Homo sapiens: one gene and its partners. The protein of the gene in region 3 purifies or fractionates together with the protein of the main gene of each other region. This does not show direct contact. Each region holds a gene or a part of one and is shown on either strand. Other genes may lie near its edges.

What was found.
Region 1: the proteins of KDF1 (region 3) and SEC24B purify together in Homo sapiens (affinity purification with mass spectrometry, with the first as the bait; one large-scale study listed by BioGRID). This does not show direct contact.
Region 2: the proteins of KDF1 (region 3) and CIP2A purify together in Homo sapiens (affinity purification with mass spectrometry, with the first as the bait; one large-scale study listed by BioGRID). This does not show direct contact.

Annotation. Positions count from the first base shown.
Region 1 is NC_000004.12:109,534,785-109,538,230, reverse strand, and holds part of SEC24B (protein transport protein Sec24B), read right to left. Parts: intron 1-3,446. UniProt on the Homo sapiens protein: Component of the coat protein complex II (COPII) which promotes the formation of transport vesicles from the endoplasmic reticulum (ER).
Region 2 is NC_000003.12:108,558,382-108,562,036, forward strand, and holds part of CIP2A (protein CIP2A), read right to left. Parts: intron 2,461-3,655; coding exon 2,268-2,460; intron 1,648-2,267; coding exon 1,573-1,647; intron 1,487-1,572; coding exon 1,376-1,486; intron 1-1,375.
Region 3 is NC_000001.11:26,950,407-26,954,061, forward strand, and holds part of KDF1 (keratinocyte differentiation factor 1), read right to left. Parts: intron 3,548-3,655; exon of another isoform or gene 3,440-3,547; intron 2,007-3,439; 5' UTR 1,975-2,006; coding exon 936-1,974; intron 351-935; coding exon 276-350; intron 1-275. UniProt on the Homo sapiens protein: Plays a role in the regulation of the epidermis formation during early development. Required both as an inhibitor of basal cell proliferation and a promoter of differentiation of basal progenitor cell progeny.

The DNA of each region.
Region 1 (3,446 bases), on a different chromosome or scaffold from region 3:
AACAACGATTAGCATGTCACCAGTATTGTGTGGCGGCTTTATGTTTCTTCTAGAGGAAATGTTCAAATGAAGGGGGATACCATTAAATTCCAAATTCCCTTAGCAATTATATATGATTATATCCTATTCTAAAAACAGCCATTCTGGGAGAATTTCATGTTTTCTTTAATTTAAAGGCAAAGAATTTTAAAGTACAGTGTGGATATGTAAATATATTTTAAAACTATACGCGAGACTATTTTAAAAGGACCTAAAAGTCTATTATTTTTTATATACATAAAAAGGTAAGATTTACTTTCCTTTTTCAAAGCCAACTGTAAATTAAATAGCAAATTAACAGTAAATTAAATAATTCAAAAATGTAGTATATAACAAAATTTAAATAGACAAGTTTGGAATAATTATGTTTGTAATTCCGGTCAATATTTTAAAAACCATTTCCATTTTGATGTGAATTTTTTCAGATGTTTTCTAAATTATTACTAAGTATACAAACACATTTTTGAAAATACAAATGGGGATCATATCATGCATATTATTCACTTCAGGCTGTATTCTTCTTCTTTTTTTCTTTTTAAGAGATGGGGTCTTGCTAGGTTGCCCAGACTGGAGTGCAATGGCTGTACACAAGTGCAGTCATAGTACACTACAGCTTTGAACTCCTGGGCTCAAGCTATCCTCCTGCCTCAGCCTCCTAGCCTCCCAAGTAGCTGGGACCACAGGTGCATGGCACAGTGCCCCAGACTGTATTCTTTTTAATAAATGCACAGCTATTATTTAATACTATAAGCATGTGTGTATATATGCCTACTTCTATGAATATATCTATGGGACACATTCTTTGCAGAATAATTTACCGTGTCATAAAGAACATGATTTTCACAGACATTGTCAAATGGCCCTCTAAAAAGGTTATATAAGTACTATATATTCCAGTCAATAATGCTCAACAGTGTCCACTGTCCTAAACTGTCTACATGATTGCCTATTATCAAATTTTAAAATTTTTGACAATCTGGTAAATGAAAGAAATGCTAAATTACTATTTTTTTTCCTAATTATGAGTGAGGTTAAATATTGTTTTATATGACCTCTACTTTATTCTTCTTTTATGAATTGCCTATTAAAATCCTTTACCCAGTTTTGTCTGGAGGAGGCAGAAAGTAAGGAAGGTCTTCTCAAAGATTTGTAAGAGAACTTTTTATAGAGAAGTTAGCCCTTTTCAGTCTTATGAGTTACAGATAATCTTAAGATTTTATTGTTTGTATTTTGGCTTTATTTATTTATTTATTGTTACCAAATATAAATGTTTTATATTTGTGCTTTCAGATTTATTGATCTTTTGAATCACCGACTTACAAAGGCGTTACCCATTCTAATATTATAAAAAAAAAAAAAATTTGGCCAGGCGCAGTGGCTCACGCCTGTAATCCCAGCACTTTGGGAGGCCGAGGTGGGGGGATCACAAAGTCAGGAGATCGAGACCATCCTAGCTAACACAGTGAAACTCCATCTCTACTAAAAATACAAACAATTAGCTGGGCGTGGTGGCAGGCGCCTGTAGTCCCAGCTACCCAGGAGACTGAGGCAGGAGAATGGCGCGAACCCGGGAGGCAGAGCTTGCAGTGAGCCAAGATTGCGCCACTGCACTCCAGCCTGGGTGACAGAGTGAGACTCCATCTCCAAAAAAACAAAACAAAACAAAAAATTCACAAATATTTCTTCTAGTGATCTGCATGGTTTCCTTTTTTACATTTAAATGTTTGATCCATTTGAAAGTTATTTTGATATAAGGAATAAGGTAAATATCCAGTCTTGTTTTTTCCTTAATGACTAATCAGTGGTCCCAAGATTATTTTTCTAATATTCCATTTCCCCACAGTAATTTGAAATGCAATCTTTACCACACTGTATTTTTCATTAATTAGATCTGTTTCTGAACTCTATTCTGTCCCACTGATCTGTTTACTGTGCCAGTATCATGGTACTTAAATAACTACAGCTTTAGAATAAGGTTTACTATTTTACTTAGAATTTATTTTTCATATATTTCCCCCTTTGCTGACATTATTCTCCCTTTTCATTTTCTTATTATCCTCATTTGTTGAGTTTTACCAATGAACTCTTGGATTATCTGTCATTTAAAAAAAAATCAAACAATGACAGATTGTAATAAGGATTACACTGAATTTATATTAATTTCAGGAAAAAGGACATATTTACATTACCTAACAATAAGCTAGGCCAGCCTTCCCTTTAAATTAATTAATTATACAAATCTGTTTTCAGAATCATATTTCCTTGGTATTGGTTAGCATACATTCAATAAAATCCTACTGAAAAATTTGTGTTTAGTATAAGCAAAGTAACTTTTTTTTTGAGACGGAGTCTTGCTCTGTCACCCAGGCTGGAACGCAGTGGCGTGATCTCGGCTCACTGCAAGCTCCGCCTCCCGGTTTCATACCATTCTCCTGCCTCAGCCTCCTTAAGAGCTGGGACTACAGGCGCCTGCCACCACGCCCAGCTAATTGTTTTTTTGTATTTTTAGTAGAGACAAGGTTTCACCATGTTAGCCAGGATGGTCTCGATCTCCTGACCTCTTGATCCACCCACCTCGGCCTCCCAAAGTGCTGGGATTACAGGCATGAGCCACCGCGCCCAGCCACTTTTTTTTTTAGACGGAGTCTTGCTCTGTCGTCCAGGTTGGAGTGCAGTGGCGCAATCTTGGCTCACTGCAAGCTCCACCTCCCAGGTTCAAGTGGTTCTCCTACTTCAGCCTCCCGAGTAGCTGGGACTACTGGCACCCGTCACCATGCCTGGCTAATTTTTTTTGTATTTTTTAATAGAAACGGGGTTTCACCATGTTGGCCAGGATGGTCTTGATCTCTTGACCTCGTGATACACCCACCTAGGCTTCCCAAAGTGCTGGGATTACAGGTGTGAGCCACAGCGTCCGGCCCAGCAAAATAATTTAAACCCAAAGTTAAAGTTGTTGGAAAACAGTTTGGCAGTTCCTCAAACAGTTAAACATAGAGTTATCATGTGACCCAGTAATTCTACTCCTAGGAATATGCCCAAGAGAACTGAAAACATATGTTCACACAAAAACTCGTACATAAGCATTCATAGTAGCACTATGCACAATAGTCCCAAAGCAAAAACAACTGAAATATCCATCAGTGGATGAATGGGTGATCAAAATGTGGTATGTCCATACAATGGACTATTTTTCAGTCATAAAAAAGAACAAACTGGCCAAGCACCGTGGCTCACACCTGTAATCCCAGCACTCTGGGAGGCCAAGGCAGGAGGACTGCTTAAGCCCAGTAGTTCGAGACCAGCCTGGGCTACACAGGGATACCCCATCTCTAGAAAAAAAATTTTTTTAATTAGCCAAGTGTGGTGGCATACTCCTGTGGTCCCAGCTACTCAGGAGGCTGAGGTAA
Region 2 (3,655 bases), on a different chromosome or scaffold from region 3:
AAATAATATCAAGTTGTATAGATTCCATTTGTATCTGCTGGGAATTTCATATTACTGCAGTAAGTTCACTCTTAAGGTATACATTATATATGTACATAATACAATGCCAAATTTACTGAGCACCTATTATGTGCCAAGTGCTATGCTAGGGCCTGGAGCTATAGAAGCAGTCTTTGATACCATGAGTGAGGGAAAAAAGAATTTCCACGTGGTTTGAAAAATGTTATTAAGAGATAAGCGTAGGTTTGATACACAGAGGAAGGATCGTCAAACACGTGTGGGAAGGAGACCAGAGTAGGCTTCTGGGTAATGAGGATATTTTAACTGAAATCTGAAGGATTATGAGTTAGGCAGAAGAGAGGAAATGGTGTTCCAGACATGGAAAGTCAAGTGCCACGACAAGGAAATACGAGAATATGTCAAGTTTCAGAAAAAGCAAAGTGGCCTAACATGGCTGACTGCAAAGAATGCGCAGAAATGAAAGATGTGGATTGAGGCCTATATAGTTAGAATCCTTATATGCCAAACTAAAGAATTTTAATGATATTTGAAAGCAATAGCAGCTACTGTGAAAGATACTCAGCACAAGAGGGACAGGATCATTTTACTGCCTTAGAGATCCTTGGGGGAGCGGCTAGGTGAAGGGGGTAGAACCAAGGAAAGATGACTGGCTGTAGAGTATCTGAGAAGAGGGTAGAAGACTACAGGTAGGAAGACTAATTGCTCTGCTATGATTCATACAAAAAATGAAAAGGATCCAGCCTATAACAAATAGTGGTAGAAGCAGAGATAGGGCAGAAAAGAGTAATATTTAGAAGGTAGAATCAACTGGACTTGGTGAATAATTATAGGAGGTAAAAACTGTGATTTCCAGGGTTCTTATTTGTAGAACACTAAAAACAGAAGAGGGAATACATAAGAATAATTTTAAAAAGGGAAGGGTGATTAGTTCATTATTGGTTATGCTGAGTTTGTGGTATTTGCTGTATATTTAAATGGAGCAACATAGGCACATAGTGCTCAGGAAAATGATCTGTGCTTGACATATAAAATTAGGAACATTACTATTTTGGTAACCATTGAAACCACAGAACACATAACTAAAGGAAAAAGGTTTAGAATATAAGTCCCAGAGTCCCCAACACTTAAAGGTACAAAATAAATAACATAGGAAAATAATACAAGGTAGCAAAAAAAAATCAGGTAACGATGTAACCAAAATTAAAGAGGACAGAATTTCAGGAAGAAGGAAGGAGGCATGTCAAATGCTAAGGAGAATTTACTTCAATTAGAGTAACAAATACATAACTAATATTTTGCATGTTTTACTTATTAATTTTTCTACAAATCAGATGTGTCTTTATATTCTACACACCTCTGTTTCAGCTTGAGTTCTTTGACAGCGATGCTGAGCAATCAGTCTATCAGCCTGTGCAAGGGCTAGAGCTTTTGTTTCCAAAAGATCTTGTAGCCTGCTTTCTTTGGACTACAAGAAAACATATCATTAATTTTCATTTTAGGAATACATCTATTAAAGCTTATTACACATTGTTAAAATAAGCTTATACTCACAGCTAATGTGGATAGTTTCATTTCATATACATCCATTATGTCAGATATTCTCACATCACAAATCTGATCCTTTACCTACATTTTAAGAGTAAAAAAACTTAAAATTTTAATAAAATATTTTGACACAATGACAAAATAAATGCCTACTTCAAAACTAAATCATTAAAACTTAATGATGAGTAACAAAATAAAAACAAATGCTACATCAGGTAAGTCACAAATATTTCTTTTTTTTTTTTGAGATGGGTCTCACTGTCACCCAGGTTGGAGTGAAGTGGTATGATCTTGGCTCACTGCAACCTCTGCCTCCTGGGTTCAAGTGATTCTCCTGCCTCAGCCTTCAGAGTAGCTGAGACAACAGGCATGAGCCAACACGTCCAGCTAATTTTTTGTATTTTTAATAGAGACGGGGTTTCGCCATATTGCCCAAGCTGGTCTTGAACTCCTCAGCTCTGGCAATCTACCCTCCTTGGCCTCCCAAAATGCTGGGATTACAGGCGTAAGCCACCGCACCCGGCAAAATGTTGAAATTTTGACTGATTTTTCTTATTTCCAAATTTTCCAGAATATTGTTATTTCTTATATTAAGGTTTCAATAGTGAAATCTGTACCTGACAGTGTTTAGATACACGTTATAATTGGGACTGACATATAGCTAATATGTACCAGGTTATAATTGCTATTTTTTCACTCACCACCATTCCAGACTGAAGTTTCTCTATTAATTCTTCAATATTCAATCCAGGAACACCATCTTTCAAATGAGGAGTTAAACACTTTATTGATGTTGGAAAACTGTGATTTGATGATTGCCAGGGCATTTTTCTGGGTATATGTTCTGTTTCCTGTTGTCTATAGGCATTGTTTGCTGCTATACTTTCTCCAAGTCTGAATGGGAGTCAAAGAAAGGAAAAAAAAATTATACGAAAATAGAAGAAAAGGCAGACTTAGTGCAGAATTAGGGAATTTTTAAGAATGGGTCCTTTTTTTGAATAGAAGTCTTCAAATAATCTTGGAGACCATGATGAAATGAAGTCTTGGGAAATATTCTGAATTTTCCAGAGCACCCACTTTTCTGTTTCTAACCTTTTATAATGACAGCTTCACCTCTGGTTTGGAGGCATTGTAAGACTAGTTTATGAGTGTGGATTATCTGTAATAAGTACAAAGTTATTGGTACTGGTCAGAATAATGTTCTTATCATGGGTGATATCACCTGGCCTTTACGTCCTTAGTCCTTTTCCTTTCTCACTCAGTACATACTTTTCACCAACCTGACTTCCATTCTAACCCTTTAAAATCCTCTCTTTCTCCTACCTCAGGCCTTCATATGAGCTGTTCCTTTATCTGGAACACGCTTTCTACCACAAAACAAAATATTTTTTTCACTTATCTCTTAACTAAAGTGCAAACTGCAAGATGGCAGGCACTCAGCCTAATTTATTATAGGCTGGGCATGGTGGCTCACACCTGTAACCGCAGCACTTTGGGAGGATCACTTGAGTCCAAGAGTTCGAGACAAGCCTGGGCAACCTGGTGAGACCCCTCTATAAAAAAATAAATTAATTAAGCAGTTGTGGTGGCACAAGCCTGTGGTCCCCGCTACTCAGGGGGTTGAGTTGGGAATATCACTTGAGCCCCAGAGGTCGAAGCTGCAGTGAGTCATGATCACACCACTGCACCCCAGTCTGGGTGATAGAGTGAGACCCTGTCTCGAAAACAAACAAGTAAATACACACACACAAAAACCCTACCTACCAATGCATCCATAATATACATTCAGTTTATTAAACGCCCAAGATAATGTCAAATAAGGGCATTAAATAGTAAGCATAAAATGGACATCTGAGATAATGCCCAAAGAGAAAATTATTTACAACACAAATAAGACAGGGAATGCCAAGACACAGTCAAAATGGTGGGAAGGCCTCACACACAGAGGCAGAGGATAAGACTTCCATGTTCAGTGAGGCTGCAGATTCCCCTTTGAAGCTCTTAAGGTTTTGTTTCATGTCAGATTACCAGTTTATGCAAGCAGGCCATCACAAAATAGAGCAGCTTTACAGACCACTTTTAACTTGTA
Region 3 (3,655 bases):
TTTCCAGCACCATGCTGGATGGCTCCCCACCCACTACTTTCCTAGTCATCTGGGCTTGAAGGTTGGGGTCTGATCACTTTCAGCTTGCCTGTTCTGGGCACCTGCACCCACTTTAAGCCAGCTTGCTAGATGGAGACAGGTCTGTGGCTGCTTAGGTCCCCGTCCCTTTTTGATGTCATCCTCATCACCCCAAAAGAAAGCTGGGAGAGCAGCAGGTGAGGGGCCCCTAGGGTAGTCCCCCACCCTCCACACCCCTCATTAGGTCAAGACCACACCTGGAGCTCCATAAGGCCTCAGCTTCCGGGCGATGGCATCTGCAGTCGTCTCCTGGGAGATCTGCACTGTCAGCTCTAGGGAGGGAACGTGAGGCAAGCAGTGGTCATTAGCACGTTCTTTCAACCCTATTTCCTACTTCTGTTCCCAGCCCGATGAGGGAGGAGCCACTCACTCCTGGGCAGGGCTAGAAAAATAATGCTTAAAGACAGAGACATAGACAACGTGTGCATGCGCAGAGTGATGGATGAGTGGGAGTTTTGGTTAGCCCAGAACAGGTCAGAGGCCCAAATTCATGTGGGTCCCTAGGTCCTGTTCACCAGACCAGGCCTAGAAGCTACTCTGGCAGGAGACAGCAGAGGAGAGGAGCCTTTTGGGTAAACTTGTTGAATGCAGAGGGAACCTTGACCTTTCTGGGGACAGCAGCGATGGCCAGAGAGCTCTCCCAGGGTCTGCATGCTTCTCTCAGCCTTGCTCGGACCTCACCAGGAAGGGCCAGAGTGGGAGCTGGGGAGAGGGGATGCAAGAGTTGACAGAAAGGAGGAGGAAAGGCAGGGACTGGCTGAGGGGTAGACCCACAGTGACTAAAGACCCCATTCCAACCCTCCCCTGGCCAGAGCCTCCCCTACTCTGCCCCTCAGCCCCATGGGGCCCCCACCTACCATCCTGGCTGAGACCTGAGCCCACCATGGTCTCATGGCCACTGTCAGGGGCAGCAGCGGTTGGGGCAGCAGCCCGAGTTGAACGACCCTCCGAGGTCTGTGGGCGAGCACGGCTCTTTCGGGTACTAATGCGAATGATGCCGCGTACCAGGCGGCCCTCAGCATCCTGCTCATCCAGGTGGTAGTCCTGCGTGATGCTGCTGATAAGGTCCGAGATCTTACTGGTCTTCTCCAGGAACACAGTGTCTGATGTGCACTTGGCCAGCTCATCGATCTGGTGTACGCTGAACAGCTCTGTCAGCTTCTTGAAGATGAGCACATCAATTTCTCGGCTCGACATGGAGCCACTGCCCATCTCCGGCAGGTCCAGGTCCGACTCATGGAAAGAATAGTACTCCTCGGAGCCACGAGGACTACTGGCAAAGGTGCTGGGCAGGCTGTGTCGCATGGGTGGGGGATCGGCCAGTGGCTCCTTGCAGCAGGAGTCCGCATCAGGGGCTGGGGAGGTGGCCCTCGGGTAGGGATACACAGGGATGCCTTTGAGCTTAACATCGGGGTAGCTGAAGCTGCTGCCCATGGTTGACTTGAGCCGCTGGCCATCCCGCCGGCTGGGGGGTGCACGATCAGGGCTGGGGGGCACTCCATTGTGCTCCTTGGCCCAGTTGGCTTCAGCAGTCCCCTCAGTGGAGTCCTCAGTAGACAGGCAGGGGCTGCATCCCCGCACACAGGCTCCACAGCGCTGGAGGCAATCCCGGCAGCGGCGGAAGCAGAAGGCAGCCCGGCACCACTCCCACACCCAGGGTCGCCAGAGCAGGCAGCAGGTGGGGGACTCAAGGGCCGGCTCAGCAGAGCCAGAGATGAAGGTAATGCTCTCTGGCCCATGGTGGCCAGGGTCCTTGGGGTCTGGTCTACGGGTGCGGCGGCTTGGTGGGGGCTGAGGTGGTTTATCATATGTCTCCAGACATAGCTCTGTTGGCCGCTCCCACGGTCCCAAGCGTGGAGGCCCAGATGCTGGGCGGGGGTGTCCAGGGCGGGGCATGGCTCATTGCATGGTTTGTAGCAGCCAGGCACCTGCGTGGGGAGAGGCCAGGAAGGAGTCAGGATCAGAGGTGAGGGACAAACTCCTGGGCTGACTTGAGCAGCTTCACATTTCTAGTTTCTGAGAGGCCTGGGATGTGGATGGACCCAAGTATGCCCAAAAACCCTTGCCTGGGATGTGGATGGACCCAAGTATGCCCAAAAACCCTTATCTCTTGTGGCCCTCCCTCCACAAAGAGAAAGTCTCTGTGGTCTAACCCAGATTTCAAAATTCCCTGTGACTTAGACCTATTGGGATGGCTATGAAAGGTTGAACATTGGCCGGGCGTGGTGGCTCACGCCTGTAATCCCAGCACTTTGGGAGGCCGAGGCAGGCAGATCACCTGAGGTCAGGAGTTCGAGACCAACCTGACTAACATGGTGAAACTCCGTCTCTACTAAAAATACAAAAAAAATTAGCCAGGTATAGTGGTGGGTGCCTGTAATCCCAGCTACTTGGGAGGCTGAGGCAGGAGAATCGCTTGAACCCGGGTGGCAGAGGTTGCAGTGAGCCAAGATCACGCCATTGCACTCCAGCCTGGGCAACAGGGCGAGACTGTGTCTCAAAAAAAAAAAAGAAAGAAAAAGAAAAAAAGAAAGGTTGAACATCTTATCTGAAATGCTTGGGTCCAGAAATGTTTTGGATTCTGAATTGTGGATTGTATACATTATACTTACCTGTTAAGCATTCCTCATCCAAAAATCTGAAATGCTCCAATGAGCATTCCTTTAAGTATCATGCTGGTGCTCAACTTTCAGATTTTGGAGTGTTTTGGATTTTTGGATTAGGGATACTCAATCTCTCAATCTGTATTTAAAAATAATCTCCCTTCTCCCAGAAAATAATGAGTGTTGGCAATAATGTGGAAAAACTGGAACCCTTGTGCATTTCTGGTGGGAATGTAAAATGGTGCAGCTGCTATGGAAAACAGTACGGTGGTTCCTCCAAAAATTAAACATCGAATTACCACACGACCCAGCAATTCCACTTCTGGGTACATACCCAATCTAATTGAGAGCAGGGACTCAGATGTTTAGACAATGTTCACAGCAGCATTATTCACAATAGCCAAAAGGTGGAAACAATCCCAGTGTCTACCAATGGATGAATGACTAAACAAAATGTGGTATATACATACAATGGAATATTACTCAGCCTTAAAAAGGAAAGGAAATTCTTATACATGCTGCAACATGGATGAACCTTGAAGAACTTATGCTAAGTGAAATAAGCCAGACACAAAAGGACAAATAGCCCGGGTGCGGTGGCTCATGCCTGTGATCCCAGCAATTTGGGAGGCTGGGATGGGTGGATCACTTGAGCGCAGGAGTTCAAGACCAGCCTGGCCAACATGGTGAAAGCCCATCCCTACTGAAAATACAAAAATTAGCTGGGCGTGGTGGTGCACACCTGTAGTCCTAGTTACCTGGGGGACTGAGGTGGGAGGACCACTTGAGCCTTGGAGGTGGAGGTTGCAGTGAGCTGAGATCGTGCCATTGCACTCCAGCCTGGGCAACAAAGCCAGACCCTGTCTCAAAAAAAAAAAAAAAAAGACAAATATTGTAAGATTCCACTTATATGACATCTCTAGAATAGTCAAATTCATAGAGACACAAAGTAGAATGGTAGTTGCCTGGTGCTG